7 linked regions of the Homo sapiens genome follow. The protein of the gene in region 1 purifies or fractionates together with the protein of each later gene. This does not show direct contact. Each region holds a gene or a part of one and is shown in the gene's direction. Other genes may lie near its edges.

What was found.
Region 2: the proteins of RPP30 (region 1) and WDR44 purify together in Homo sapiens (affinity purification with mass spectrometry; one large-scale study listed by BioGRID and IntAct). This does not show direct contact.
Region 3: the proteins of RPP30 (region 1) and ENOX2 purify together in Homo sapiens (affinity purification with mass spectrometry; one large-scale study listed by BioGRID and IntAct). This does not show direct contact.
Region 4: the proteins of RPP30 (region 1) and CTR9 purify together in Homo sapiens (co-immunoprecipitation; one large-scale study listed by IntAct). This does not show direct contact.
Region 5: the proteins of RPP30 (region 1) and VWA8 purify together in Homo sapiens (affinity purification with mass spectrometry; one large-scale study listed by BioGRID and IntAct). This does not show direct contact.
Region 6: the proteins of RPP30 (region 1) and EPB41L1 fractionate together in Homo sapiens (co-fractionation; one large-scale study listed by BioGRID). This does not show direct contact.
Region 7: the proteins of RPP30 (region 1) and KIF15 fractionate together in Homo sapiens (co-fractionation; one large-scale study listed by BioGRID). This does not show direct contact.

What each region holds. Positions count from the first base shown.
Region 1 is NC_000010.11:90,895,575-90,899,730, forward strand, and holds part of RPP30 (ribonuclease P protein subunit p30), read left to right. Parts: intron 1-305; coding exon 306-343; intron 344-738; coding exon 739-818; intron 819-4,156. UniProt on the Homo sapiens protein: Component of ribonuclease P, a ribonucleoprotein complex that generates mature tRNA molecules by cleaving their 5'-ends. Also a component of the MRP ribonuclease complex, which cleaves pre-rRNA sequences.
Region 2 is NC_000023.11:118,390,533-118,394,829, forward strand, and holds part of WDR44 (WD repeat-containing protein 44), read left to right. Parts: intron 1-2,099; coding exon 2,100-2,739; intron 2,740-3,522; coding exon 3,523-3,653; intron 3,654-4,297. UniProt on the Homo sapiens protein: Downstream effector for Rab11 which regulates Rab11 intracellular membrane trafficking functions such as endocytic recycling, intracellular ciliogenesis and protein export.
Region 3 is NC_000023.11:130,665,213-130,669,509, reverse strand, and holds part of ENOX2 (ecto-NOX disulfide-thiol exchanger 2), read left to right. Parts: intron 1-1,767; coding exon 1,768-1,980; intron 1,981-3,760; coding exon 3,761-3,867; intron 3,868-4,297. UniProt on the Homo sapiens protein: May be involved in cell growth. Probably acts as a terminal oxidase of plasma electron transport from cytosolic NAD(P)H via hydroquinones to acceptors at the cell surface.
Region 4 is NC_000011.10:10,768,120-10,772,416, forward strand, and holds part of CTR9 (RNA polymerase-associated protein CTR9 homolog), read left to right. Parts: coding exon 1-42; intron 43-223; coding exon 224-372; intron 373-2,090; coding exon 2,091-2,207; intron 2,208-2,367; coding exon 2,368-2,513; intron 2,514-3,425; coding exon 3,426-3,497; intron 3,498-4,297. UniProt on the Homo sapiens protein: Component of the PAF1 complex (PAF1C) which has multiple functions during transcription by RNA polymerase II and is implicated in regulation of development and maintenance of embryonic stem cell pluripotency.
Region 5 is NC_000013.11:41,880,637-41,884,933, reverse strand, and holds part of VWA8 (von Willebrand factor A domain-containing protein 8 isoform a precursor), read left to right. Parts: intron 1-1,442; coding exon 1,443-1,547; intron 1,548-4,297. UniProt on the Homo sapiens protein: Exhibits ATPase activity in vitro.
Region 6 is NC_000020.11:36,206,426-36,210,722, forward strand, and holds part of EPB41L1 (band 4.1-like protein 1), read left to right. Parts: coding exon of another isoform or gene 1-1,355; intron 1,356-1,875; coding exon of another isoform or gene 1,876-1,983; intron 1,984-3,062; coding exon 3,063-3,473; intron 3,474-4,297. UniProt on the Homo sapiens protein: May function to confer stability and plasticity to neuronal membrane via multiple interactions, including the spectrin-actin-based cytoskeleton, integral membrane channels and membrane-associated guanylate kinases.
Region 7 is NC_000003.12:44,850,682-44,853,960, forward strand, and holds the end of KIF15 (kinesin-like protein KIF15), read left to right. Parts: intron 1-1,105; coding exon 1,106-1,271; intron 1,272-1,526; coding exon 1,527-1,658; intron 1,659-1,991; coding exon 1,992-2,054; 3' UTR 2,055-2,575; downstream 2,576-3,279. UniProt on the Homo sapiens protein: Plus-end directed kinesin-like motor enzyme involved in mitotic spindle assembly.

The sequences.
Region 1 (4,156 bases):
TGTTGCATTTTTTTCTATTTTAACTGCATTTGCTCATTGTAATTGCTAAATAGTAAAATTTATCCCCACTTTCTTTAGGCTTCAACTTTTGTTTATATAATCAGTTTTTCTTTTATACTGTTACAAAATGCCTTTCAAGCTTCTCTTATATTTTCAAAAGCTATGAAACCCATCAAAATTATAAGGACTTAAATTTATGTAATTTTTTTATTTTTGGATACTTAAATTTTCTATTAATTTGCTATAAGTCATTGAAATGTTATAAATAATTTTCTCATATCTACTCTTTGTTCATTTTATTTCAGCCTTTAGAAATAAGAGGGCCATATGACGTGGCAAATCTGTATCCTTTTCTGAGTAAAAAGTTGTTGACATTGTCTTTCAGGAAATTTTGAATTTGAAGTCGTATTATAGTTGAACATGTATTTTTCTCAACCTTTTACTGTAAGTTTACCAATTAATAACTTCAAAAATAAATTATATAACATTATAGAGAGCTTTATGCTTCTGTTTTTTAATTAATCATGAGATAGAAAAGAGGGAATGAGGGACTTCATATGATAAAAGCTTAGAGTTAAATGAGTCTTTTCTCAGATGCATGTTCCAGTTGGACTAAGAACTGCTGTTGAATTAATTAGCCTCTCAAGATGACCAGGTTAGCTGGCACTTTCTGTTATGTTTGTGTTAGTCTCGTGTCCTTGGGTGACTCTGGGTTGAAATCTTTAATGCTCCCCCAAGAGGCTTGCTGTTTGGGCTCTCTGAAAGTGACGCCAAGGCTGCGGTGTCCACCAACTGCCGAGCAGCGCTTCTCCATGGAGGTAAGCAAGTTCTTCCAGTACAAACTGAATGGTCATGTTAAAAGCAAGTCATTTTTACAGCCATACCTATTTTTATTGCCCTACCCTACAGAGTTCCTTTGGGATCATCTTTTCTCAACCTGTTCTAAACACAGTCATCAGTGTTTTCTCACCCTCACTTCAGGCTTTACTTTCTAAAGTTTGTAGAATGAATATAGTTTTCATTACAGAAATAAGTATTGAATAGTTCTTCCAGCTATACATGTGTGCTCCTGCCGACATTTTGATAGGCTTCTAATCTCCCTTCCTTCTTCTCCCTCACCAGAAGGCCATGCTTTCCCTGTTGAAAATCTCTGTTTTAGAGAACGGATATGTTAAAAATATGTGTTAAACTATTTATTAGGAAAACAAAACCAGCAAATACATTTTTAAAAATCCAACTAACAAAACATAGACTGTAACTTTTACATTTATTATAACTCAGAATGTTTCTTTTCTCATGTTTGCTTACATGGTCAAGTTGTGTCCAGACTGTACCTTTTTTATTTTTTTTTCTTTTTCTAAATAGAGACAGAGTCTCACTATGTTGCCCAGGCTGGTCTTGAACTCCTGGGCTCAAGCAATCCTCCTACCTCAGCCTCCCAAAGTGCTAGGATTACAGACATGAGCCACCATGCCCGGCCAGACTGTACATTTTTTACTCACATTTTGTATATGTACCTTTTCACTGACTGAGTTTCCTGCTCATCAGATGTTAAAAATTGAAAGTATGCTGAAACTTTGGAAAATGAAAGTGAAATTTTATTAAAACAATTTAAGCTTTTGATCACTGTTTTGTCTTCGTTATCTTTATAATTCTTAGGACTAGTTGTAGTGGTTAAGAAGCAATTTCATTGATATCACCCAAGTGAATTTTAAACTTCAAAGTAGATTGCTACATATAGACTGAGTTATTTGTCATATGAATAGCTAGGTTATTGAGGGCTTGTGTGTTGGGCTTTATTGATCTGATTTCCACTTGAGAGAACTGCTTATGTATTGGCTTGCCGTAAATTAGATGATTTTGCTTTTAGTTTCAACATTTTTAGTTTGAGATTTTTGTATTATGTAGCCTAGAACTCATCACATAAGCTTTGGGAGTGGTCAAATTAATGGAGATTTTGAATAATGATTTTCTTGAAATTAGGGAACAGTTGGTTCACACTTTGATAGTTCTGTCATTATTTTGATCTATTTTAAATAAACATTCATCAGGATTTTGAGTAACAGTTGGGGTTCCAAAATGGACTAAACAAGAAACAGAAACTAAAATATAAATACATACATAATTTTATATATAGGAAAATAGGAAGTCCTGCATTTGACTTTAAGAACTCAGCTATTCAGCATATAACACATAATATGTAAAGTATTTTTTTTTAGAATTTCTTTTTGTGGGTACATAGTATGTGTATATATTTATGGGGTACTGAGATATTTTGATATAGGCATGCAATGCATAATAATTACATCATGGAAAATGGGGTGTCCATCCCCTCAAGCATATGTCTTGTGTTATAAACAATCCAATTATGCTTTTTTAGTTATTTTTAAATATACAATTAAATTGTATTGACTATGGTCACCCTCTTGTGCTATCATATACTAGACCTTGTTCATTCTATTTTTTTTGTACCCATTAACCATCTTCACCTCCCTCTCAGCCCCCCACTACCCTTCCCAGCCTCTGGTAACCATCCTTCTACTTTCTGTCTCCAGGAGTTCAGTTGCTTTGATTTTTAGATCCCACAAACAAGTGAGAACATGTGATGTTTGTCTTTCTGTGTCTAAAATCAGGCTTTTATAGAAGCTAAACTTAAAGAAGACTTGTGAACTTTGGGTGGCATTACCATTCACCCCAGTGTACCCAGGACAGTTCTAGTTTATGCCTGCTGTTTCTGTGACCTTATTAGCACTTCTATTCCCTGAAGAGAGTCCTAAACTAGATGATAAAATATGGTTACCCTGGTTTTCGTTGCCATTGGGATCAGTATGAGACGGTAGTATGATGTGTTCTTAAGATTGCTAATTCAGCCTAGGTAATATTAGAAGAAATAAAGGATTCTGAGACAAGGAAATTCAAAGCCTCGTTATTATACTCTCATTGATGAAATCTCAGCCGGCATCTGTATCATTCTGAGTGCCACATTTAAGAAGGACAGCAGTGCACTGAAACACTATTGGAAAATGTCTACTCAGTCCTTAAAGGGTCTGGAAGCCTCATGATGAGAGGAATCACGAGGGTGGTGCAGACATGGATACCTGGCAAGCAGAAGAGTTGGGACACATGGTAGTTAGCTTTCAACTTGGAAGGCTTGCCACAGGAAATCAGAATTAGGTTCTTTGGGGGTCCAGAAATCTAGAAACCAATGAATAGCAATTCTGAGGAGGTTGTGGGGAAAGGACAGAGGAAAGAGGCCCAAGGTCAGGGTCTTTGGCCTGTGATTGATAAAGTTCATGCCCTCAATCAGCCCCTGGACCAAAATGAACCTGTTGGGGACACCTGCCTTAGCCCCTTGTGAACAAAATTATTCACTCGTAGATAATCCTTTAGATTTTCCTTGGCAAGATGATTAAAGGAAATACTATATGTGAAAACATTTTATAAACTAAAGCATACACAAATGTAACGTCTTGCTGTTACCAAGAAATGCATTTATTTTTAAAAGACACTAAAGAAATTAATGCATTTTGTTAAAAAGTGCTGATTTTCATAATGTTTATATTTCAGTTGATTTTTAGACTATGGGTACAGAATCAGTGACATAAATTAATAGCTATAAGTGTGACGTTTTTCATTTGGTGAAATGGAAATCATTGACAGTTTTTATTTTGAGGTTCTTATTATGTTGGCATTTTAATGACCTTGAGAGCAGTTTTATCCCTTTTACAAATAAAAGTGTTTTAAAATAATTGGCAGAGTAGATTTACTAAGTTAATCTTGATAAATGGGAAAATAATGCTTAACACTTTATGGTTGACTTTACGTTTATTACTTGAAATAAGGAATAATTCATAGCTAAATTTCTGTTCAAGTTCTTTTGATTCTGCCACCTTTGTAGCTAATGGGTATCTCTCTCTTTCTCCATAATCCCTTTCCATTTCTAAGGACAGAGTTTGGGTCTGTTTTCATGACACTATGGCCTTTCATAAGTTACCCTTCCAAACTCTATTTTCTCCTAATTTTTTTGTATTCCTACTTCACATCAGCCATATTGTCCCCTAAACTATTTTACCTAGGTTCTTCTTATCTTTCTCTCCATGCCTTTGTAAAGGAATATTTCTCTTTTTCTTACTCCGTTTACCCTATTCTGAGTAGT
Region 2 (4,297 bases), on another chromosome or scaffold:
GATTATTATCAGATAAGGGATTGGGGAAGATGCATTTTCAACCTCATTTTGACCCCTCTTGTGGCACAGACATTTCCATTATGTGTAGTGATTATTTCAAACCTTTATACTCACCTCATGCTCACTGTACCCACTCACATCCCCCTCACTTTCAGCCGATAACCTTGTTTCCTACTCCACGTAAATATTAGAGGCTAAAAAGCCTGAATCCATTCCTTTGTATCATCTTTCACTTCCTTTACCTACATATTTATTGTTATTTCTTACCTTTTTTTCATGTCATCCATCACTGAAGATTTAGTATTCTTGTTTTCTGTCCAAAGTAGTGTGGTATAATACAAAGATCACTGGATTTTTAAGTAAGACCTGGATTTCAGTTTTGGCTTTGTAGCTTACTAATTGTGGGACTGGCAAAATTCTTAAAGCCTTTACCTCAGAGTCCTGCTTTTCTAGGAGGGAGGTAATCCAGCTACCTAACCCAAAGGCCTGTATGACAATTAAATGAGAATGTGTATACTAGGTCTAATACACAGTAGGCCTTCTTTCCTTTCTTTTCCAGAACATTGCTCTGTTATCTTCTTTTCCAGTAGTTCCTTCCCTTCAGGTTATAAAAGTGCTGGGTCACTTTATCGAAGTCTTTTTGCATTTATAGCTAAGCTTTTTGAAAACTCAGACCGTGCTAATGTCTCTGTATCTTCACCTCTTATTCAATCTCAAATCCATTGTAATATGACTTCTGTTATCACTGTTATCATTGAGGTTCTCAGTGCTCAGTAACCACCTAATTGACAAATTGGTTGGACTCTGGTTAGTTTTGGTGAAAGCAAGGTAATTTCTAAGGTTAACAATTTGAAGTTTGAGAAAAACTAACATATAGAACATGCTAAGAAATCAGGGATGAATATTACTGAGCAGCAGTAATACCCAGTTCAAGTTAGCATGAAATTGTAGTAAACCAGATTAGGATGGTTCTATGATGCATTCTGTTAACTTTCTGAAGCCAGGGAATTGAGAAAGCAGAAGTTGTTCATGGTTGGACATGGTGGCAGGATAAGTGATCTGGGAGATTTAATATTAGTAATGACAAGACTGGGGAGAAAATATATTCTAAATGTTGGCAGAAGATAATAGAAAGCCTGTTTATATTTTAAGCTACATATAAGAAAGGGGGCCAGGCGCAGTGGCTCATGCCTGTAATCCCAGCACTTTGGGAGGCTGAGGCAGGTGGATCACATGAGGTCGGGAGTTAAAGGCCAGCCTGGCCAACATGGTGAAACCTCGTCTCTACTAAAAATACAAAAATTATCCCGGCGTGGAGCACCTGTAATCTCAGCTTTTAGGGAGGCTGAGGCAGGAGAATTGCTTGAACCTGGGAGGCAGAGGTTGCAGTGAGCCAAGATCGTGCCACTGCACTCCAGCCTGGGTGACAGAGTGAGACTCCATTTCAAAAAAGAAAAAGAAAGGAAGGGAAAAGACAAGGTGGACTGGGTATTTGAACTCTTTTCATGGTCCTGCCATCAGTCCACATAGTGGAGTTTAGGTGTAGTCTGTTTAAGAATGTTAATCTCCCTGCATCTGCTGGTTTTTGGGTCATAAGCTTGAGTTCAGAGCTAAACAACTTGAATTCTTCTCCTGGGGATTTGGATTATCGTGGTTTGGTTAAGTAGGCTCAAACCATTAGGCTGGTATTACAACAAGTTTGGCATAAATATGTAAATGAATCAGGATATTGAGTCTTAATGTAAGTTTAGGATTGAACTTGATTTTACAGGATTATTTGATCTTTTGTACCTAAGTATTAACACAAATTTGCTATTATGAGGGTTAAGAGTATAGATGCTGGAATCAAACTCCCTGGGTTTATACCTGCTTCATCACTTACTAGCTTTGTGACCTTGGACAAATCATTTGATTAGTTCCCTAATTTGTAAAATGGTGACAGTAGGAGTAGAATCTCATAAGGTTGTTGTAAAGATTAAAATATGTAAAGTGTTAAGAACATTGCCTGGCACATACTAAGTACTATGTAAATGATTAGCTGTTACTGTGTTCTTATAAATAGCTTCATTTTTAAAAACTACTTTTAACCCTTTCATCAGATTATTGAAAGTATTATTGAGGAGAGTCAGAAAGTACTACAGCTTGAAGATGACTCTTTGGATTCCAAAGGAAAAGAACTCTCTGATCAAGCTACTGCCAGTCCTATTGTGGCTAGAACAGATCTGAGCAATATACCCGGACTGTTAGCCATAGATCAAGTACTACCGGAAGAATCCCAAAAGGCAGAGAGTCAGAATACATTTGAAGAGACTGAATTAGAATTAAAAAAATGCTTTCCTTCTGATGAAACCTGTGAGAAACCAGTAGATGAAACCACGAAGTTAACTCAAACAAGTTCAACTGAGCAGCTTAATGTGCTTGAAACTGAAACAGAAGTATTGAACAAGGAAGCAGTGGAAGTCAAAGGAGGTGGTGATGTTTTAGAGCCTGTGTCCTCAGACTCCTTATCTACTAAAGATTTTGCCGCTGTGGAAGAAGTGGCCCCTGCCAAACCCCCAAGACACCTTACTCCAGAGCCTGATATAGTGGCTAGTACAAAGAAGCCTGTTCCAGCACGCCCACCTCCTCCAACTAATTTCCCACCTCCTAGACCCCCACCTCCTTCTCGACCTGCTCCACCACCAAGAAAAAGGAAAAGCGAATTGGAATTTGAGACTCTGAAAACTCCTGATATAGATGGCAAGTATTAATTGAGAAATCACTCTGTTGGTTGGGCACAGTGGCTCACGCCTGTAATCCCAGCACTTTGGGAGGCCAAGGCGGGCGGATCGCTTGAGCTCAGTTCAAGACCAGCCTGGGCAACATGGCAAAACCCCATCTGAGCAACAACAACAAAAAAAAATACAAAAGTTAGCTGGCCATGGTGGCACGCGCCTGTAGTCCCAGCTACTTGGGAGGCTGAGGCAGGAGAGTTGCTTGGGCCTGGGAGGCAGAGACTGCAGTGAGCCAAGGTCGCGCCATTGCACTCCAGCCTGGGTGATCAGAGTGAAATCTTGTCTCAAAAAAAAAAAAAAAGAGAGAAATAACTCTTTGTGGTGAAATTTTGGAGTTGAAACTGTTTACCTTTCTGCCTTTATTTCACTTTATTAAAAAACTCACTGGCAACCAAGTTATTAAAATTATTTCTTTAGTAATAGACAAAATGTAAAAATGTTTACATTGGTGAAAATTACTTTACTGTAATTGAACACTTCAGCAGACTTCAAACTTTCAATTCTGTTGCCATCTGAGAGAGAGTGGCATGGTGAAAAAAACTTGGGATTTGGAGACCTAAAGTCTGAATTCAAGTCCTGCATCTTTTTTTTGTATGAGCTGTATAGTCTTGAGGAAATTAAATAACTTGTTTGAACCATGGTTTCCCTGTATAGGAAATGAGAGTAATCAAGCCACTTTCCTCACAGGGTTGTTACAAGAATCAAACAAAAAGGGTTGTTATTATTGTTGTTATTATTATCATTGCAGTTCCCAAAGAGAATATTACGTCTGATTCTCTCCTAACCGCAAGCATGGCTTCAGAAAGTACGGTTAAGGATTCTCAGCCTTCTCTTGATTTGGCAAGTGCTACCAGTGGAGATAAAATAGTTACCGCCCAGGTTGGTGAATTAGTGTTCTGTTTCATATAGACTTTATCAGCTCCCTGCAACTGGCTGGTTTGTTGATGATTATTCTGTATTCTCCAGGCCAGATTTTTCTTTGTCCTCCAAACCTGACCCCCTTACTTCTCTTGATCAGCTCTGCTACATGCTAACTGGGTGAGCCTAGCAAGCTGTTTAGCATCTGGATCTCAGATGCCCCATCAATAAAATGGAGGAAAAGTCCTTCCTTGAGGGTTTGAAATGAGCTAAAATATGCCAAGTATCTAGCAGGTAATAGGTATTCAAAAAACGACAGATGCTACTATTTGTAATATTGTTGGTACTAATAAACACCAACTATAGTCTATGTTTGTCCTGTATTGGTCAGAATTGAAGACTTTTTTTTTTTATAATTTCCTTTTCCTAATCATAGAAAAACTTTATATGCTAGGAAGCGGGCTACACAAAAGACTTGATAACACTAATTTTACCACAGCCAGATTCTGGGACTCAGAGCTACTTACATGGTAGCTGTGGTGGGCCAGGCTACCACACTAGAATATAGGACACTATAGTCTTGTTATAGCCTTAGAGCAGGGGTCAGTAGTGGCCTGCTTTAGGAGGTTCCCCAAGCTAAGAATGTTCTTTACATTTTTAAAGGT
Region 3 (4,297 bases), on another chromosome or scaffold:
GTCCAGAAAGTAGTCATGCTGTACATTCTTCTTAGATGACTCAAAGACTTAGCCACCACCAACTAAAACATAAAGACTTTTAAATCACTTTAAAAGGCCAGTTTATTTAAAACAGTGACTGTGGAAACGTGTAGACATTGCTTAATCAGACTGCTTTCCCATTAGTTTTGATTCTTGTTCCCCTTGTTTGACTCTCAGCCATTTTGTTAATTTAACATTAATTGCTCTGCCTGGTCTCCTGTCTTAGTAGCTCAAATCCAGTCTTTCTCATTTTCTGAGTATAGATGATTTTATTGGATGAATGCTGGTGTCCCATTGATCTTATTGGTAACACCAATCCAGCTCTAATGGTATGAATTTTCCCTGCTTCTTGTGTTCTCAACTCATCAAGATACTGCTAACCCTACTTTCCAAATAGGTCTCCTTCACCAGACATGTTTGTACCACATAGCCTAAGGGATTCACACATGTAAGAAATTGGTTTTGACTTTCTTTAAGGGAAAAGCAGAAAACCTAGAGTCCAGAATAGAGGCACAGAAATAATGGTACATTTTGAAAAACTGGAAAGGCTGAAAGCATTGGTAAGACGCCAGGTCCAAGACTTGCCTAGTCACACAACACCAAACAAATCAGTTTAAGTTTAAAAAAATGAATTTAATGGGTGTGTGACCTTCAAGAGAAGCAAAAACTGAGCATCAACATAAAGTCTATATCTAAGTAATAAAGTGAAAAGCTGCTATAAAGGGGAGGCTGACTGCTTGTTATATGTCTGCACTGAAAAAGGGGCAAGAGGCAAGAAGTTCAAACTGCAGTGAAGGAAATTTCCATTTAACATAAGGGTTTCTAGCCAGAGAAGGATGTGAAGCCCTTGAATTGGGCTTCAATAGATCCAAATGTACTCTCCCTCTCTGGAGCCTTTAAGAACAGAAGGCATAAGTGGCTATCTTGGGGAGCTGAACCAGAAGCTTTGGAAGAGCTGTGCTACTATCTTAACTAATCACAGAATAACTCCTAACTAGCTGCAGAAATCTACATGGAGGTTCTTCATGCAAGAGAAAAAAGGATGTGGAGAAATATAGAAATAAAATAAATTGCATCAAAATAGATTGTGAGTGGGACTGAGTGGAAGGCCTGGGGCTGTGGATTGAACACAGGAGTGATACTATAAAAGGTCGAAGATGTGCATGTTTGTATCTAAAGAATGACCTACTTAATTAACTCTTCCCTGAGGCTCCTCCCAACACTGTAATTCCATGGATCCAAGGTAAAGTTACTGTTAAATTCAAGTTAAACTCAGGATTCAAGTTTGCTTTTCCTCATTAAAACACAGGACTGTAGAATTCTGAAGTTCCCTCACTAATTCATGGTTTTTTCTGTCTCTCTGTCTCCCCTCTGCCCCCTTTCCCCCTTCTCTCTCTCTCTCTCTCTCTCTCACACACACACACACACACAATCAGAGAGGGTAAGAAATTTGCAATACATGAAACCTATATATCAGTACAGAAAACTTTTTTCAAGGAAACATTTCTCTTTCTGAAAATTCATCACAGACCACAACCAGTCTGACTACATTGATCCTTCCATTCTTCCTGTTTGTCTGCCTGCCTACTGCCTGTGTGTGCACATGTGTGTATGTGTGGCTCCTCATCCTCAGCAATTCATTTACCCATCACTGCCAAAAATCATGATGCCCTCTTTGCCAGCATGTTGGGAAAATAGATCAAAATTTGGTTACCTTTGTTGGTTATAAAAATATATTTTTTTCAGATGATTCCAAATTCTCAGAAGCTGTACAGACCTTGCTTACCTGGATAGAGCGAGGAGAGGTCAACCGTCGTAGCGCCAATAACTTCTACTCCATGATCCAGTCGGCCAACAGCCATGTCCGCCGCCTGGTGAACGAGAAAGCTGCCCATGAGAAAGATATGGAAGAAGCAAAGGAGAAGTTCAAGCAGGCCCTTTCTGGAATTCTCATTCAATGTGAGTGGAACTTAGAGTTCTGCTGGAATGAGAATAAGTCACTTCACTTAGTCACTTGCTCTCTATGGGAGCTCAGGCCTCCAGAGCCATCCTGTGTTAAGGCTCAAGGCTCCCTTTTTCACTGCCTTGTGCTCTCCTTATATTGTCAAATGCCCAAGCTCCAATTTCACAGGAGACATGTGCGCACCTGCTAGCTTCATTTTCTCTGGTATATCTACTTCAACTCCTTAGAAACACTGATCCTTAGGCCACATCCTATACTTCTACAGCCCTGGGCCTCAATAGAGGGCTGGGTATTTTATTGCTAAAGTTACGATGTAGCATCAGCATTTTAAAGCTGCTTTTCTTCAGATTTGTATAATTATCATCATGTAATATGCCTTCAAGAAACTCCATTTCAATGATCAATGTAATTATATTTCCCAAGGTGATTGGATAAAAATCAAATTTGCTACTTCTACATTTTTTATTTAGTTTACTTTCTTCTGCTACCTTTGCTGGATGTCATAGACACTGGGACAAGGTGAGAAGCTACCAAAATGGCCATTTTTAAAAAGAAATTCCGCTCCAAACCTATCTAAGGTCTCTGAAATGAGCCAGATCAGATAAATTATCAAGTAATTTTTTGTTTACCACATTATAAAATTATACACTCTTATTTTTTCAGTAAGAAAGTATATTCACCTTAAGAATAAGGGTATAATTTTATGATTTTGCTTTTAAACAATTATGGTCCACTCTTTCCAAACTTGACTTCCCTGTACTTGACTCATACATAATTGTGATTAAGGGGGAGTTGTTCCATTTGCCACTTGTATTTTGAAAGTATATATGGGCATAAAATCCAGGAGGCAAAAGCACATGTCTTCAGGACTTTAGGATAAATTTTTAAAAAGAGAAAGCAGCACGCATCATGGGACTATAAATCCTTAAGTCATTAGAAGACAGGGTGCAAACAGGGATGTAAAGAAAAAAAAAATAATACCTCTGGATTTTCTTACTGTGAACACCCAACCAGACAGGGGCTCTTGTCCTGCTTTTCTTTTCCCAAAGGAGTCATGTCTAAGCTTCCCCTCTCTTGAACTGTGATTAGGATAAAGCCCCAGAACATCTGCACACATTTCCCTGTTTGACATTTTAAGAGACCTTGAAAAATACTCTCTAGGACCGCACTTACACAGCATCCTTCCCTAAAACTTATATTTTTCCAGTCAACGAGTCTATCTTGGTAGACTTAAAAAAGATTCAATCCATCTTAGGTTTTGATTTGATGCTTCTTGTTAAACATACCTCAGAATAGTAAAAGCATGAATTCTGTTGAAGCAAGGCATCCAAGTGTGTGTCAGAGGGCTATGAAAGGAGCCAGGGGTAGAGAGTTTCTGGTACAGTTTGCCATTTTCTTCCATGCTGTGTGGAGTCACTAGTACTAAACTAAAGACAAGTACTAAATAAAAGTGCATTTGCTATGACTCTTCCTCTCCTGCCTCCATGAATTCACAATGCCTGTATTAAAACTCTAGTTGTTACCATTTTACCCCAAACCTCTGGTGTTCCCTTTTGTCTTTCTGTATGTTGATGTCTTTTCCTTTGCGTCTCCTTTAAAATCAAAGTACCCCAACACATGTAGCCTTTTCCAAGCACAACCACAGCTTAGTATAGTGTCATAACAACAAGATACAACAAGCCTGATGCTTCTCTTTTATTTCATTTCTTTTCTCCTCTCTTTTTCCATCCCTGGATGATACCCTGGCCTGATCCAACTGCTGATTTGATGCTGCAGTTGAGCAGATAGTGGCTGTGTACCATTCCGCCTCCAAGCAGAAGGCATGGGACCACTTCACAAAAGCCCAGCGGAAGAACATCAGCGTGTGGTGCAAACAAGCTGAGGTTGGTAACTTTTTATTCTGGTAGCCCCTTGGGGGGACAGTTTCTTTCGTTAACAAGTTATTGATCTGGAGTTTAGCCAGAATTAAATAGTGCCAAGCTCCCATGGTCACAATAAGGCCCTAATGAAACACTAAGATATGTTCTATAGCCTGTCACTGTGTCCAGACCACCTGCTGTCAAAAGGGTAATAAATGTGCTTGTGCTGTGGTGAATGCATTCTGCTGGATGGAAACCTTAGTAGTGAAAATGTAGCTGGGATAATTATAAGTTTACTTCTCTTAGCGAGCTAGTCTTGGGTACAACAATAATTACTGACCTGCGCTTCTAGTGTTAGTAATATTAGGGCTGTCTTACATTTTTTAGAGTGTCTTGACAGTGAAGGACGGAAGCCGCCTGGTGTTATACTGGATCTTTGAAATTTCTGAGCTTC
Region 4 (4,297 bases), on another chromosome or scaffold:
TCAGAAATGATGCAAAGAATCTGTATGCTGCCAATGGCATAGGTGATTATAAGACTTGAGTACCCATAACAATTTGTTTCAAATGAATACTTTCAGAGGAATGTTTGTAAATCAGAATTTTTCTTAAAATGTGATCAATGTAGTTGTTTTAAAATAGAATTTTTAGTTGTTTTTCTGACTCCAATTAGAAAATTGTTAAGTGTGAACCTTTTTATATCTTTAGGAGCTGTTTTGGCCCACAAAGGATATTTTCGTGAAGCTCGTGATGTATTTGCCCAAGTAAGAGAAGCAACAGCAGATATTAGTGATGTGTGGCTGAACTTAGCACACATCTATGTGGAGCAAAAGCAGTACATCAGCGCCGTTCAGATGGTAATAGCTTCTCTTTCAAGATATTTTTATATCTTGTTCATTGTTAAGCAGATGTTTTCTTAGCCATTCTGGCCCTGTCATGGAGCTGCATGCTATCTCTTGTGATACTGTGTCTATTTAGAGATTTATAATTATATAATGCTAAGGCCAGGCTTTGGTATCCAGACAGAGATGTGAGTCCTGGTTCCACCACTAATTACATGCCTCAGGCAAAGGACATCCTTTCTGAGCCAGTTTTCCTATCTATAAAATGGAGATAATTGTACCTTAACTTCATAGAATTTTGTGAGGATCCCGTATGAAAACTACTTGGCACTAGCATGCCTAGCATATTAGTAATACCCAGTAAGTAGTAGGATTGAATATTTATTTGTGTATTCAGTTTCTGAAACTGAACTGTGAGTTTTAGAAAGGTTAAATGACTTATTTAAAAGAAAACAGGCCAGGCATGGTGGCTTACTCCTGTAATCCCAGCACTTTGGGAGGCTGAGGCGGCTGAGGCGGATGGATCACGAGGTCAGGAGTTCGAGACCAGCCTGGCCAACATGGTGAAACCCTGTCTCTACTAAAAATACAAAAATTAGCTGGGCATGGTAGCACGTGCCTGTAATCCCAGCTTACTCAGGAAGCTGAAACAGGAGAATTGCTTGAACCTGGGAGGCAGAGGTTGCAGTAAGCCAAGATCCTGCCACTGCACTCTAGCCTGGGCGACAAAGCCAGACTCTGTCTCGGGAAAAAAAAGAAAAAAGAAAACAAAACAGCGATAAGATTTAATGACTGTAGAATTTTTTTATGCTTACATTTGTTGAGTGCTTGAGCTCGAAATAAAAGTCATACTCAGCATCCATAAAATTAAAAAGTAAAAAGGATCTTCGGCTCTGTGGGATATATTATGGTCAGAAAGGAAAAGCTTACAAAAAGTAGACAAAAAGAGCAGTCCAGGCTCCTGAGAAGTGGTTTACCTTTTTCTAAAATGGGTGGGTTATTACCAATATTCAGAGTACTGGAAAGTCAATAATCACAGAAACTCACAGAACCTAGATTGCATATGGAGCTTCAGAGGTTGTGTTTTGTGAGGCTGGCCTTCCTGATCTGCTGAATGATAATGTTGTCTTTTATAAATGCAAATTAACTACTAGGGATATTCAGGAAAAAATGGTCTTAACCATTTTTCATGAAAAAGGTCTTACCTATGACAAGAGGTATTCCATGGTCAAAAAGTGCTATGTTCATGTCACAATTAACACTAGTATTGTATTGGTTTTACCAAGAAGTTAACAACCAGAACTGTAAGACTCCTCATGCTCATTGCCAGTAGGTTCTGCCCATTGTTAAGAAAGGTGTAGATGGTAAAACGCAAAGGACAACGGTGTATGACTTCTCATCAGTGGTCAATAAGCTGATTCTAGATAGTATTGCTAAAAGTATGAAAAAGGCTTTCCAGTCTGTTTACCCTTTCTTTCAATGTTGGTCCAAATTTCAAATGGAAAGAAACCATTTCAAGCATCTAGTTTTTCTAATGGTCAGATTTTTTATGTTGTGAAAATGTATCCTGATGAATGTCAAAAATCATTCCCCAAATTATTCTCTGAAATTAACCATTCAAAGGGTAAAACACCTTTTTACAGAGCTTTAAAATTGCAATGCCATTTTGCTACAAAATGAAAATGTCATTTATTCTTTGTTGTGTTTTAATTAACTTTTTTCTTTTACTGTAGTATGAAAACTGCCTCCGAAAGTTCTATAAGCACCAAAACACTGAAGTTGTACTCTATTTGGCCCGGGCCCTCTTCAAGTGTGGCAAGTTACAGGAATGCAAACAGACTTTGCTGAAGGTAAAAAGGAGAGATGTTATTCCCATCCATTTCTGTGCTACATTGTATTTTTTAATTCTTCGTGATGCGTGTTCACATACCTACTACTTAATAATACTCTGCTGTCTAAGATCCTTTTCATGTCATTTGAACATATGAAATATTTATTTTTTATTCACAGGCTAGACATGTGGCACCCAGTGATACAGTTCTTATGTTTAATGTGGCCTTGGTCCTGCAAAGATTAGCTACCTCTGTCCTGAAAGATGAAAAAAGTAATCTGAAGGAAGTACTTAATGCTGTGAAAGAACTGGAGCTTGCACATAGGTAAAGATTTTGTAGAAACAACCTATGAAATGCTTTATTTGGTCTATGACCATACCATCTTGAACTCTCCCGATTTTGTCTGAAATGCTTTGTTTAAAGCTATTTGTCTCAAGCTGCTGAAAATCACTTCCTTCTAAAGGTGGTCTATTAGAATCATTCCAGCAATAGTTAAGCCAAAGCAGATAGCAGCTGCCACCAGGTGGTGCCAAACTATAGTCAGGATCCTGCCAGATTTGGATCTTGTAGCTTGACCTCTAGAACTGGCTGGCTAGCTTTGCAAACTTGCCATAGATTTTTTATTAATCTGACAGTAATGTGACCCAGCATTTTACACATGTGAAATTTTTTGGACACTTACGTTGGTCTTCCATTTTACACCAATGTGTCTTTTAATGGGATGTTGATTTTCATTGAACTAGGATTAAGGTTTTACTTCTTAAATAATGCTTAATAGTTTTATTCAGTTCAGCTCAAAATTTATTTAGCCATATAGTATTTATATGGTGAGTCAGTGTGTGGTGAAATTAAAACCTGTCATCTCTTCAGGTTTTGTCCAACTTAATATTTTTATTCTTGTTTAACAATTCTTGCCTTGCCTGGTAAATTATAAGTGCTTTCATGGCCTGAGCCCCGTAACCTCCATCCTGACATATTTAGTAAATTTCATGTTTAGTAAATACTTGTTGCTTGAATTGCTTTGTGGTTATTTGTGAATTTACTGATAATATTAAATATAACTTAGACCATCTTGATGAACGTGTCTATTAAATGTAATGAGTGGCATAAATTTGTGTAAATCAGTCAATATGCAAACCTTTTCTCAGACTTTGTAGCACAGATTAAATTTTTTAAGAGCTTTATTTCATTAGAATCTCTTTTTTTAAAAGTGAAGTATTTTCTCGTTTCATTTAGATACTTCAGTTATTTGAGTAAAGTGGGAGATAAAATGAGATTTGATTTGGCCCTTGCTGCTACAGAAGCCAGGTAATGTTACTATTTATGGAAGGTGACTTTGGGTGAGGCAGTGATATTTACATGGGCTGGGAAAGTGCCACAGTAGGGAACAGAGGTTCCTGACCTTCCACAGGTCAGTCTTTCACACTTCTCTTGGGGACTCTCTAATCTTTGCCAGGACTTTTTCCTTTCAGGGAATTGGACAAAATTGCCTTAGTACAAGTACTTGAGTTCTGGGGGAAAATACTTTTCTATTTTACTTATGTCAGCTATGTCAGCCTAGTCAAGATAAAATTCATGACTCTGAGTTATATGTAAAGATAATGTTGGAAATCTTTTTAGCTGTGCTTTGAGAGGACATTTATAGTTTGGAAACTTAACATAGTTGGCAGTATTGGCTTATGATAAACTAAGTTAATTTTGCTAATTAAGACTCCATACATTGGTATGGTATGGCAAGTGTAATGCAAAAAAAAAAATTTTTTTTGGCTGGGCGCAGTGGCTCACACCTGTAATCCTGGCACTTTTGGAGGCCTAGGTGGGCGGATCAGCTGAGGTCAGGAGTTCAAGAGCAGCCTGACCAACATGGAGAAACTCCGTCTCTACTAAAAATACAAAATTAGCCAGGTATGGTGGTGCACACCTGTAATCCCAGCTACTCGGGAGGCTGAGGCAGGATAATCACTTAAACCCGGAGGCGGAGGTTGCGGTGAGCCGAGATGGCACCATTACACTCTAACCTAGGCAACAAGAGCAAAACTCTGTCTCTTAAACAAAAAAGGAAGAAAAAAAACATTTTTTTAAAAAAAGACTTCACATAGATCAGCTAA
Region 5 (4,297 bases), on another chromosome or scaffold:
TATGTATGTATGTATGTATGTATGTATGTATGTATGTATGTATATATGTATGTTTCATGTGAGTCAGGGAGCCTAGGTATTGTTGACATTGTTCTATACATCCAGAACAGAATTTCTCCTCCTGTTTATCAAATCTTATACTTTTATCAAATCTTTTTGTTTTTGCTTAGAACATTTTATTTTGAAAATTCTTATGAAATCTTTTGTTTTTGCTTAGAACATTTTACTTTGAAAATTCTCAAATGTAAAAAAAAGTTGAAAAACAGTAAAACATTCATAATCCCCTCACCTACAATCACCCATTATTAATATATTGCCACATTTGTTTGCATGTGCTTTTTTCTTTTTTTTTTTCCTGAACCATTTGGAAGTAAATTGCAGTCAGTACTCTTAAATACTTCAGTGTGTGTATCAGTTCGTTCTCCCGCTGCTATGAAGAAATACCTGAGACTGGGTAATTTATAAAGAAAAGAGGTTTAATTGACTCACAGTTCTGCAAGGCTATGGAGGCCTCAGGAAACTTACAATCGTGGTGGAAGAGGAAGCAAACACGTCCTTCACATGGTGGCAGGAGAGAAAAGTGCAGAGTGAAGGAGGGGAAAAGCCCTTTATAAAGCCATCAGATCTCATGAGAACTCACTATCATGAGAACAGCATGGAGGTTAACTGCCTCCATGATTCAGTTGTCTCCCACTGGGTCCCTCCCATGACACGTGGGGATTGTGGGAGCTACAATTCAAGATGAGATTTGGGTGGGGACACAGCCAAACCATATCAGTATGCAACTTCTAAGAATTAGGACATTCTTCTACATAACCAGAACAACATTATCACACTTCATATCATGTTAACAGTAATCCATAGTATCATCTAATAGATAGTTCATATTGAAATTTCACTAATCTTTCTTGTCAACAGACTTTTAAAGTGGGGTGAACAGAATTGACAGTGCAGATAATGTGAGGAAGGATTTGAGGATAATGAATACTTTCTAATTTTGTAGTTATAACTGTGAAGCTAAGTGAATGTGGATGAGATTAACTTAGGAATAAAAAGGGATCAGGTACTTTGGGATGAATAAGGTAGAGACATGTATTCTGTTTCAAATGGGGGTCTATGGGATATTCATATAGTCACATGTAATGAACAATTGAGGGTTCAGGTTTAGAGCTCAAGAAAGAAGTCAAGACCAGACATAGAAGTGTGGGAGCCATCAATACATAGAAGATAAATGAAAGATGGGAATGGGTAAGCTTACCCAGAGAAAGGGCAAGGAATGAGAAGAGAAAATAATGAATATTTGCTTTTGTAGACTTACAGAAAATACCAGACACCTATTGGTTACTTTTATAAGTCAATTTTAATGTCATATGTACATTTCAGATGTTTTCTGTGATTATTTTGAATTTTGCTCATTCCTATGTATTTTTGCTCCTACATAGGATTCCTTTCCTATGATGCCAATCAAACATGCAATCCAGTGGCTTTATCCATATAGTATTTTACTAGGTCATGAAGGGAAGATGGCTGTGGAAGGTGTTTTAAAGGTGAGTGTCTGCTTCCCTTTCTTTCCTTTCTTTTCCCATTTTCCCTTCCCTTGCCTTTTCCCATCTTCCCCTCACTCCTTTCCCCACCTTTCCTATTTTTCTCTCCCCATCCTTATTTCTTTCCTTTCCCTTCCCCTCCATTCTTTACCAGGCATGGAGGTATCAGCATTCCAACAAGAAGACAGCTGTGATAAATAGGGCAGCAAACACACAGGGGCTGGTGTGATTGGGAGATTGGTTATGTTGAGCAAATAAGTAAATAGATTGAGCAAATGAATGAATATATTAAGGATAATAAGAGTTATGCTTCTCACTGTTGGATGAGGGATTTATAACCATGGAAAGGGGGAAGGCAAGAAAAAACTCTAAGGTATTGGATTGGAATTGGTGTTATTATGAATCATGACTTTTTTTAAACAATATATATGAACAAATAGATAGAGATAGTATGTGTATATGTATACATACACATATTTTCTAGCTGTCTCCTAAGGCAGCCTAAAAACTATGATGTTCTCATATTTAGTTAAAAAAATAGGATTGCTCTCCCTCTCCCTCTCCCTCTCCCCACGGTCTCCCTCTCCCTCTCTTTCCACGGTCTCCCTCTGATGCCCAGCCGAAGCTGGACTGTACTGCTGCCATCTCGGCTCACTGCAACCTCCCTGCCTGATTCTCCTGCCTCAGCCTGCCGAGTGCCTGCGATTGCAGGCGCGCGACGCCACGCCTGACTGGTTTTCGTATTTTTTTGGTGGAGACGGGGTTTCGCTGTGTTGGCCGGGCTGGTCTCCAGCTCCTAACCGCGAGTGATCCGCCAGCCTTGGCCTCCCGGGGTGCTGGGATTGCAGACGGAGTCTGGTTCACTCAGTGCTCAATGGTGCCCAGGCTGGAGTGCAGTGGTGTGATCTCGGCTCGCTACAACCTCCACCTCCCAGCTGCCTGCCTTGGCCTCCCAAAGTGCCGAGATTGCAGCCTCTGCCTGGCCGCCACCCCGTCTGGGAAGTGAGGAGCGTCTCTGCCTGGCCGCCCGTCGTCTGGGACGTGAGGAGCCCCTCTGCCTGGCTGCCCAGTCTGGAAAGTGAGGAGCGTCTCTGCCCGGCCGCCATCCCATCTAGGAAGTGACGAGCGCCTCTTCCCGGTCGCCATCCCATCTAGGAAGTGAGGAGCGTCTCTGCCCGGCCGCCCATCGTCTGAGATGTGGGGAGAGCCTCTGCCCTGCCGCCCCGTCTGGGATGTGAGGAGCACCTCCACCCGGCCGCGACCCCGTCTGGGAGGTGAGGAGCGTCTCTGCCCGGCCGCCCCGTCTGAGAAGTGAGGAGACCCTCCGCCTGGCAACCGCCCGTCTGAGAAGTGAGGAGCCCCTCCGCCCGGAAGCCGCCCCATCTGAGAAGTGAGGAGCCCCTCCGTCCCGGCAGTCACCCTGTCTGGGAAGTGAGGAGCGTCTCCGCCCAGCAGCCACCCCGTCCGGGAGGGAGGTGGGGGTCAGCCCCCGCCAGGCCAGCCGCCCCGTCCGGGAGGGAGGTGGGGGGGTCAGCCCCCCGCCCGGCCAGCCGCCCCGTCCGGGAGGTGAGGGGCACCTCTGCCCGGCCGCCCCTACTGGGAAGTGAGGAGCTCCTCTGCCCAGCCAGTCGCCCCGTCCAGGAGGGAGGTGGGGGGGTCAGCCCCCAGCCCGGCCAGCCGCCCCGTCCGGGAGGTGAGGGGCGCCTCTGCCCGGCCGCCCCTACTGGGAAGTGAGGAGCCCTCTGCCCAGCCGCCCCTACTGGGAAGTGAGGAGCCCCTCTGCCTGGCCACCACCCCGTCTGGGAGGTGTACCCAACAGCTCATTGAGAACGGGCCATGATGACAATGGCGGTTTTGTGGAACAGAAGGGGGGAAAGGTGGGGAAAAGATTGAGAAATCGGATGGTTGCCGTGTCTGTGTAGAAAGAGGTAGACATGGGAGACTTTTCATTTTGTTCTGTACTAAGAAAAATTCTTATCCTGTTGATCTGTGACCTTACCCCCCCCCCCCCCCCCCCGGCAAAAAAAAACTATGATGTTCTAGTAGCAGTGATCATACCAAGTACCTGGACATTGGTTTCTAAATACCATGCTCTCTAAAAGGATTAGGTCAGGGAATGCAGAAGATGAGCCTGGACCATCTTTTTGTGCCAGAGAGTAAGGAAATATTCAACAAATGATGTCGATATGTCAAAATGATGGAGTTCCCAGGTTGAAGTGGCTGAAATCTGGGACAATTTGAGCATAAAAATAAATGATGATGGTAATTGGTTTTAACCTGTTACATAAAATAGGAATCCATGAGTCCATACTGATAGAAATGAACAAAAAATATGGAGATGGGAGTTCTCTTTTAAAGTGTAAAATGCCTACTTGTGAATCTAGAAGGAATTACATAAATAGAAAAAACACCATTTGGCAACCATCAGAGTGGCAGTTAATTTAGACAGGAGTCATCAAAGGATGTTAAAGCTGGCAGGTGGAGCCTCTATGAGACACAGGGTATTGACATAATCTCTGAATATCTCCCTCCAAAAGACTCAGTTGACTACAAAACAAGAAAGTGGTATTTTTACAGTAAACTTCAACTTGACCAGGTGGGACAAATTGACATTGTATGCCTCCCAAATTCCCCATTTCTGGGGAATTTTTGCTGAGAGTTCATGATGTATGTTTGGCCATGAGGAAATATTGTAGATTTCTAGGTTGAGGGTCATTGTATAGAACATAGGCCTCTATTCTTTAAAACTGTTC
Region 6 (4,297 bases), on another chromosome or scaffold:
CTGAGTTGAGCAATGAAACTGATACTTCCTTTGCAGAGAGGAGCTTCTATTTAAATTATGAAGAAAAAGACTCAGAAGACCAAGTCCTCCCTCCACCCCTGGAGGAGAGAAAAGGGCGCCTGGATGCCCCTCCCGGAGGTGAGCCCAGGCCGACGCTGAATTCCTTAGACCTGAGGGTTTCTGCTGCTGCTTCCAGCAGGAGCAAGGACGAAGCCCACATGACTTCCCCAAAGGAAGGGGCAGGGACCCCCAAGAACCATGGAGGACCTGGTGACCTGAAGGGATCTCCCGCAGGACAGACGTTTGCTGAAGGCTGGGAAGATGCCCAGTGGGGAGTGGAAGGAGAGTTTCCCCACCTGACAGCCAGCGCAGCCCGAGAGGAAGGGACCCCCGTGAGTGGAGATTTGCTGGGAAAGGCTGAGGAAAGTCCCACAGAGGAACTGAAGAAGCACCCTCCTCACAGAGGACAGGGCGTGCATCCCGACCCCCAGGCCTGCGCCCTTCCTCGGGCCATCCCTCTGAATGTCAGGAAGCCAGTCAAACCAGACAGAGGCAACTTCCCACCCAAAGAGAGGGGAGTGGTTCCCACCCAGAAAGGAGGGGCTGAGCTGAAGGACCGCGAGGCTTCAGCATTTCTTCACATGGAGGTGATCATTCCCCTGCCAGCCTCCCCTGGTCATTCTGAGGACCTGGCAGCTCTGGAGGAAGCTTCTCCAAGCCCAACCTCCCATGGGTCAGGGGAGCCTTCGGAGCTCAGGGAGCCCTTTCTTAGACATGTCCATCTTTCGAAAGCCAGCCCAGAGCCCAAGGACCAAGTAGGGTTTGTGGTGTCCCCTGCCACAGGAGGTGAGCGCAGGCCTCCTCCCATCACCAGCAGAAAGCCCAGAGTAGTCCCTGAAGAAGCTGAGGGGCGCATACCTCTGGGGTTTGGGTTCCCTTCAGGGAAGCGAAGGGAGATGACCTCTTTCCAGGCTGGGGACCAAGAGGGCTCCCTAGAAGATATTAGCAAGACCTCAGTGGCCAACAAAATTCGGATATTTGAGACCCACGGAGCTGAAACTCGCCGAATGAGTGAGGGTGAAGCAAGGTCCCTTCCAAATGACGTATCTTCAGAGGCACCCGTGGGACAAGCAGAGCAGCAGCGGAGTACGCTCTCAGACCTGGGCTTCGCCCAACTCCAGCCCCCAGGGGACTTTGCCAGCCCCAAAGCCACACATTCCACAGTGATACCTCTGGCTACCAGACACTTCAGGGAGGACACTTCTGCATCCTACCAGGAAGCACACACGGAACTAGAGCCCGTGTCCCCCAATTCAGGCTGTGAAACCACGCTGGCAGAAGCTACTGGAACTGGGGTAACTGGCCGCGTGAGCCCCCGCCCCCACCGCTGCTCCCCGCCCATGGGGGCTGGCCGCATGCTCTGTAGTTTTTAGAAGCATGTTTCAGTGGCCCCTCGTCATTTCTGCAATCAGAGGCTGCTTATCCATCCCTGTGAGTTTTTTCCCTAAACGGGCCTGGGTGTAGCTCAGGCTGAATGATGGGCTTCTCTGCTTGGCCCATGTTAGCTTGGCCACAAAGACCCTCAGCTTTTGGTGTGACCTGGTGCCCAGAGGGTCACACAACCCCCATGGAGAAGGTGGCGCCACCACCAGCAAATGACACACCTGCTTTGCCTTGCCGCTCATACCCGCTGGGTTCCTGCCTACCTTGCTTGGCTTGTCCAGCGATCTTTCTTCATCCTTTCCCATCCCTGGTTCTCCCGCCTTGGGAAAGTTGACAGTCCAGAGGTTTCCATCCTTCACTTCTGGTTCCCTCTCAGTCCCAGTGCCAAGTTTCTTTCTGCCTCCTTAAGACTAACTGTCTTCTCTAATCCAGAACAAATCCGGAGATGCGGTCAGGGAAGAGAAGCGCTCCACCAACTTAGCAGCCAACACCCCTGGGAAGGGGGGGCGCCTGAGATTTGCCAGCCCCTCGGGCCCTCAGGTCTCTGCAGCCCCTCTGTGCCCTGATGACCCAGTCACCTTCACCCGGCCAGGATGCATCGCCGCCTTAGGTTCCCACCTGCTGTGGCAGCACCTCTCGTGCTGCTCAACTCTGGCTTGTCTGGAATGTCTCCCTCACACCTCTCAACCTTCCAGAAACTGGCTAAATGGAGGCTCGCTTAGCAAGTGAATGTCTAAGCCCACTGAATCCCTAGAACCAGAAGCCAAGTTCTTTACAAATCTTTCATGGGTATTAGGTTGGTCTTTAAAAAGAATGTTATGAACCAGCCAAAAATGTGTGTGTGGTGTTTAATCCCTGACAGGCCAGTTGAGAGGTATGTATGTCGGACAAGAGTTGCTGGTTCCCCGAGGCACTGCCTTGGCCCGCTGTTGTCAATTACACTGATGGGACCAGAGCCTCTACTCCCTGACTTGCCTGTGGTCCACTCATGGAGCCCAGGGTGGAGCTGGCGTAGCACTCAGCTCCCAAGAAGCTCGTGCCCAAAAGGCCTGACCCTGAATTGCTCTTCTCTCTAGTCGATGCTGACCCCTCCCCCGGAGACTCAGTGGAATTGACAAACATGTTGGCTTCCTCTTTTGTTCCTCAAAGTTCTTGGCTCCAACCTCTCTGCCTTCCCTTCCTGGGTCTCCCTGAATCCCTGGATCTCCCTCCTTAGTTTCTGTTTCTCAACGCCCACCTGCACGGATGGGCCTGGGGTCCGGGCTTCCATCCCTGCCTTTCGTGCAATGCTGCTTCCAATAAGCTCCCAGATCCAATACCCTTGGATGGAGCCTCCTGTCCAGGAGTCACTGGCAGGACGTTTGCTTTGTACTTGCTTTTGCCATCAGTGTGAGACCCTCAGAAAGGGGCATCTCCACTCTTGAGTCGTTTTTGTTTTTTTTATGCTTGTTATGATTTCAAGGAACCTTTCCTGGGGTGTTTTTCATTTCCTGGCCTGCTCTTCCATTCAGGATGTCGACACAGCCCCGAGATTTCTCCTGACATTCACCATCTTGATTTCTCTTTCTCTCTCTCTCCCCACCCCACATCCCCATTCTTTTGATTTTATCTGGCCATAGAGAGCAGGGCTGAGGGAGGGCTCCGAGGAGAAAGTCAAACCACCACGTCCCCGGGCCCCAGAGAGTGACACAGGCGATGAGGACCAGGACCAGGAGAGGGACACGGTGTTCCTGAAGGACAACCACCTGGCCATTGAGCGCAAGTGCTCCAGCATCACGGTCAGCTCTACGTCTAGCCTGGAGGCTGAGGTGGACTTCACGGTCATTGGTGACTACCATGGCAGCGCCTTCGAAGACTTCTCCCGCAGCCTGCCTGAGCTCGACCGGGACAAAAGCGACTCGGACACTGAGGGCCTGCTGTTCTCCCGGGATCTCAACAAGGGGGCCCCCAGCCAGGATGATGAGTCTGGGGGCATTGAGGACAGCCCGGATCGAGGGGCCTGCTCCACCCCGGATATGCCCCAGTTTGAGGTACAGTGGAGCTTCCTCAAGAGCCAGGCCCGCTGGGCACCGCATGCTCAGAGGGCCCTGGGCCACCCGTGAGAAGACCGAGCACCCAGCCTGCAGCCTGAAGCTCTGTCTCGTGTTGCATGACTGCCCCTCCGCAGAACAGCATGGTTCTGTGCTCGCATGTTTGCCATCTCGGTTTACCCCTAACACGCGCTCCTTGGTATTTTAACCCTGTGACCCCATCGCTTGCTGAAGTCGAGCGATGACAGGTAGTCTGGTCTTTCTTGACCCCATGCCCCCCCACCTGTGTTGCATGGCACCTGCAGAGAGCATGCGTCTGTGGACTCTTGGGGGCTCCTGCAGCCTGGTCTGAAAGCTGAATGGTTTTTCCTGATCCGGGCCCAGGCTTGTCTCTCTGGGGTCTGGGCTTCCCGGGGAAGGGGAAGCAGTTTAAATCCATCTGGCCCTGGGGTCTCAGGGTGGTAATGGAAGCTCCTGGAAGAGAGGAAATGTGGTCATTGAGGAGGGACAGACTGTCTCTGGGCCTCTCTGTGGTCTCCTCTGTAGAGCTGTGAAGGGATTTCTCTAAGGCACGCCTGCCCATATCATTCCTTTGCCCCCTCATCTCTTCTAGACCCAACCTCCCTCCTACACTCTCCTTTCCCCAACATTCCTGGCATTGAAATATGAGCTTAGCCACTCTGGGCTCTCACTTCATGCTATATTCTCTGAGCAGGTTTTTTTTTCTCCCTTTCGGTGCCTTACAAACCTATCATGTTCCAGGACCAAGTTCAAATGTCAGTTTCCTAGCAGGGGTTTGCTTTCCTGACCACCCTGGGCAGAAA
Region 7 (3,279 bases), on another chromosome or scaffold:
TGAATTGGGAGAGCATCAGTGCCCTTCTCCCCAGACTGTCCTTCTGAGATCCACAGAATGTAGTCCAAAAACAACTTGCCTAGAAATTAGCTGGCCCTTTGTGTATTAAATTTTATGTATTATATCATCTTAGCAATCAACCGCTAGAAATTAGCTGGCTTTGAGTGGTGTATTAAATTTTGTGTATTATATCATTTCAGTAATCAACAGCTAGAAATTAGCTGGCCTTGAATGGTGTAATAATACATCATTTCAACAGTCAACATTACATTTCATGAGCATTATAAAATAAAAAGCAGGCCTGGCACAGTGGTTCACACCTGTAGTCCCAGGATTTTGGGAGACCAAGGAGAAGAGGATTGCTTGAGGCCATGAGTTTGAGACCAGCCTGGGCAACATAGCAAGACTCCATCTCTACGGATAATTTTTAAAACATTAGCCAAGCACAGTGGTGCATGCTGGTAGTCCTAGATACTCCAAAGGCTGGAGCAGGAAGATTGCTTGAGCCTAGGAGTTGGAGGCTGCAGTGAGCTATGATGGTGCCAGCGTACTCTAGCCTGGGCAGCAGAGTGAGACCCTGTCCCTAAAGGGGGGTGGGGGGTGAAGTAGGCATTTGTTTTGGGAAACTTACAGGATTCAGATCATTTTATAAAGTCAGTGAAATGTACATGAAGTGTATAAATTCTAAACAACTGAAGAAATGAATTGAAAGAAATGACTGGTGTCCCACTGTCTGAGGACCAGTTTTTGAAATCAGAAATGATCAAGATAGGGGATACTGAATAAACCATGCAGATTATAATAATACTTAAATTACATTTGCCCCAAGTGGGCTGAATCTAAACAATTTTATTCTAAATTTTTTTTGTTTAGAAAATGTTTTGAGGAGTTTTCCAAAATGAAAGTCTTGGGTAAAACAAAACCAAAAAAAGCATATCTGGTATGTAGCACTTACTGTCTTCTTTTGCCATCAGCAGAGGAGGGCTAAAGATTAGTAATACTTTCAAATCAAAATTCTGGCCTTGCAGTACACATGTCTAACTTGAGCACTGTTTTATGATTATGTTTCTTTCAAATACTATAAAGTGATAACCTATTCCTACAGCCTAGAAGAAGTCCAAAGTGCCCTTTACAACAAAGAGATGGAATGCCTTAGAATGACTGATGAAGTCGAACGAACCCAAACTTTGGAGTCTAAAGCATTCCAGGAAAAAGAACAACTGAGATCAAAGCTGGAAGAAATGTATGAAGAAAGAGAGAGAACATCCCAGGTGTGCTAGTGTGTTGGTGTTTTCATGATACTTAGAACACTCAAATGAATAGAACTAATTAGCGTAAAACTCACTTTGTGATTGGGTGTCCTTAGTTCAGAGTTGCTTTATTGTATGAAGAGTTGTGAGGCCTTGAAAGCTGGGATTCTGGACTCTCTGACTTCCTGTGCTCCTGGAAGGCAAGAAATAATGTGACTTTAAAAGAAAATTAAGACCTACTTCTCATTTTTCCCTCCTTGGATTGATTACCTGCAGGAGATGGAAATGTTAAGGAAGCAGGTGGAGTGTCTTGCTGAGGAAAATGGAAAGTTGGTAGGTCACCAAAATTTGCATCAGAAGATTCAGTACGTAGTGCGACTAAAGAAGGAAAATGTCAGGCTTGCTGAGGTAAACCTAAAAATTATTCTGAATAAATTCTGTCTGGTTTAAAAATGATTATTTTATTGAAACCAAATTAAAACTTAATTATTGAATCAGTTAACTGCTTACTTCAGGGAGCTTCCTGAATTAAAAAAAAAAAAAAAGTTGGTCGTTGCTATTCTGAGCCTAATTCAATCAGTGGCATTTCATAGACAGCAGATTCTTGTTTAACGTTTAGTTTGCACATTGAAAATTCCAGTCTTAATTTGAAATATACACCTAATAAATGCAAAAAAAAACCACTTCCTGTAAGAATTAGAGCCTTATTTTTTTTCTTTTTGTTTTTTTAAAATTACTTAGGAGACAGAAAAGTTGCGTGCCGAAAATGTATTTTTAAAAGAAAAGAAAAGAAGTGAATCTTGAGGATTCCGGTCAGCTACCTAGGCATCACCTTGTTTGAAGATGTTTCTTCTCTTTTACAAGTAAGACCTACTCCTGGCCACTTAGGAGAGCTGAATTTATGGACCTTAATTATTAAATGTTTATAAGGTGGTGGTAACCACCTCAAGTTTCTGATGAACATTCTGCATCCATATACACCCTGTGACAGTCAGCAGTCTGCTATTAAGTGGCCTACTTCAAGGCTTTGAATCAACTTAAGGGAAAACCTTTTGTCTTTGTAAAAATAAAAGCCTGTAGCTAAGGTTTACAGTGGACATTAGCCAGATCATTTTCTTCTTAGATTATGCCATAATCTCCTTTGATTCTTATGGAAGTTCTAACAATATATGGTGGTTCCAACACCTGCAGTGAGTTTAATGACTGACTTAGTAGCAGGTACAAGAAGCAAACTTGTTAATATAGATTATTTTTGTATTCTTACTTTAGGTATTTTCTTGAGCATTTTCCATGACTGTAAATAAAGCCATTTTTTAAGATAATAATTAAAGTGACTTACATTGTTCATTCTGTTGTTCATTGAACACATACTTAATGAACACCTGCAATATGCCAGGCACTAATCATCAGTGAACAAAGCAAATCTTGCCCTCAAGGAACTTCTGTGTATTGGGCCTTCTTTCTTTTTTATTGAGACAAATATTCCATTTTATGGATATGCTACACTGTCCATCCAACAGCTGATGGATACTTGAATTGTTTCCAGTTTAGGACTATTATAAATAATGGAGCTATAAATGTTCATGTGTAAGTCATGGTGTGGACATATATTTCATATCTCTTGAGCACATGCCTAGGAGTAGAATTACTGGGTTATCTGAAAAGCATGTCTTTACTTTTTAAGACATTGCCTGTTTTCCAAATTTACCATTTAGGTATACCATTTTACATTCCTACCAACAGTGTATTCCAATTTCTCCACATTTTCACCAACACTTGTTATTGTCAGGTTTTTTACTGCAGCCATCCTAGGTGTGTAGTTATATCACTTGCATTTTCCTAATTACTAATGCTATTGAACATTTTTCCATATTATGGAATATTACTTGGCAATAAAAAGGGAACATGCTACAACATGATGAATCTCAAAAAAATGCTAAGTAAAAGAAAAACCAAACCCAAAAGACCACATATTATATGTTTTTATTTCTATGGCAGGTCCAGAAAAGGCAAAATTATAGAGATAGAA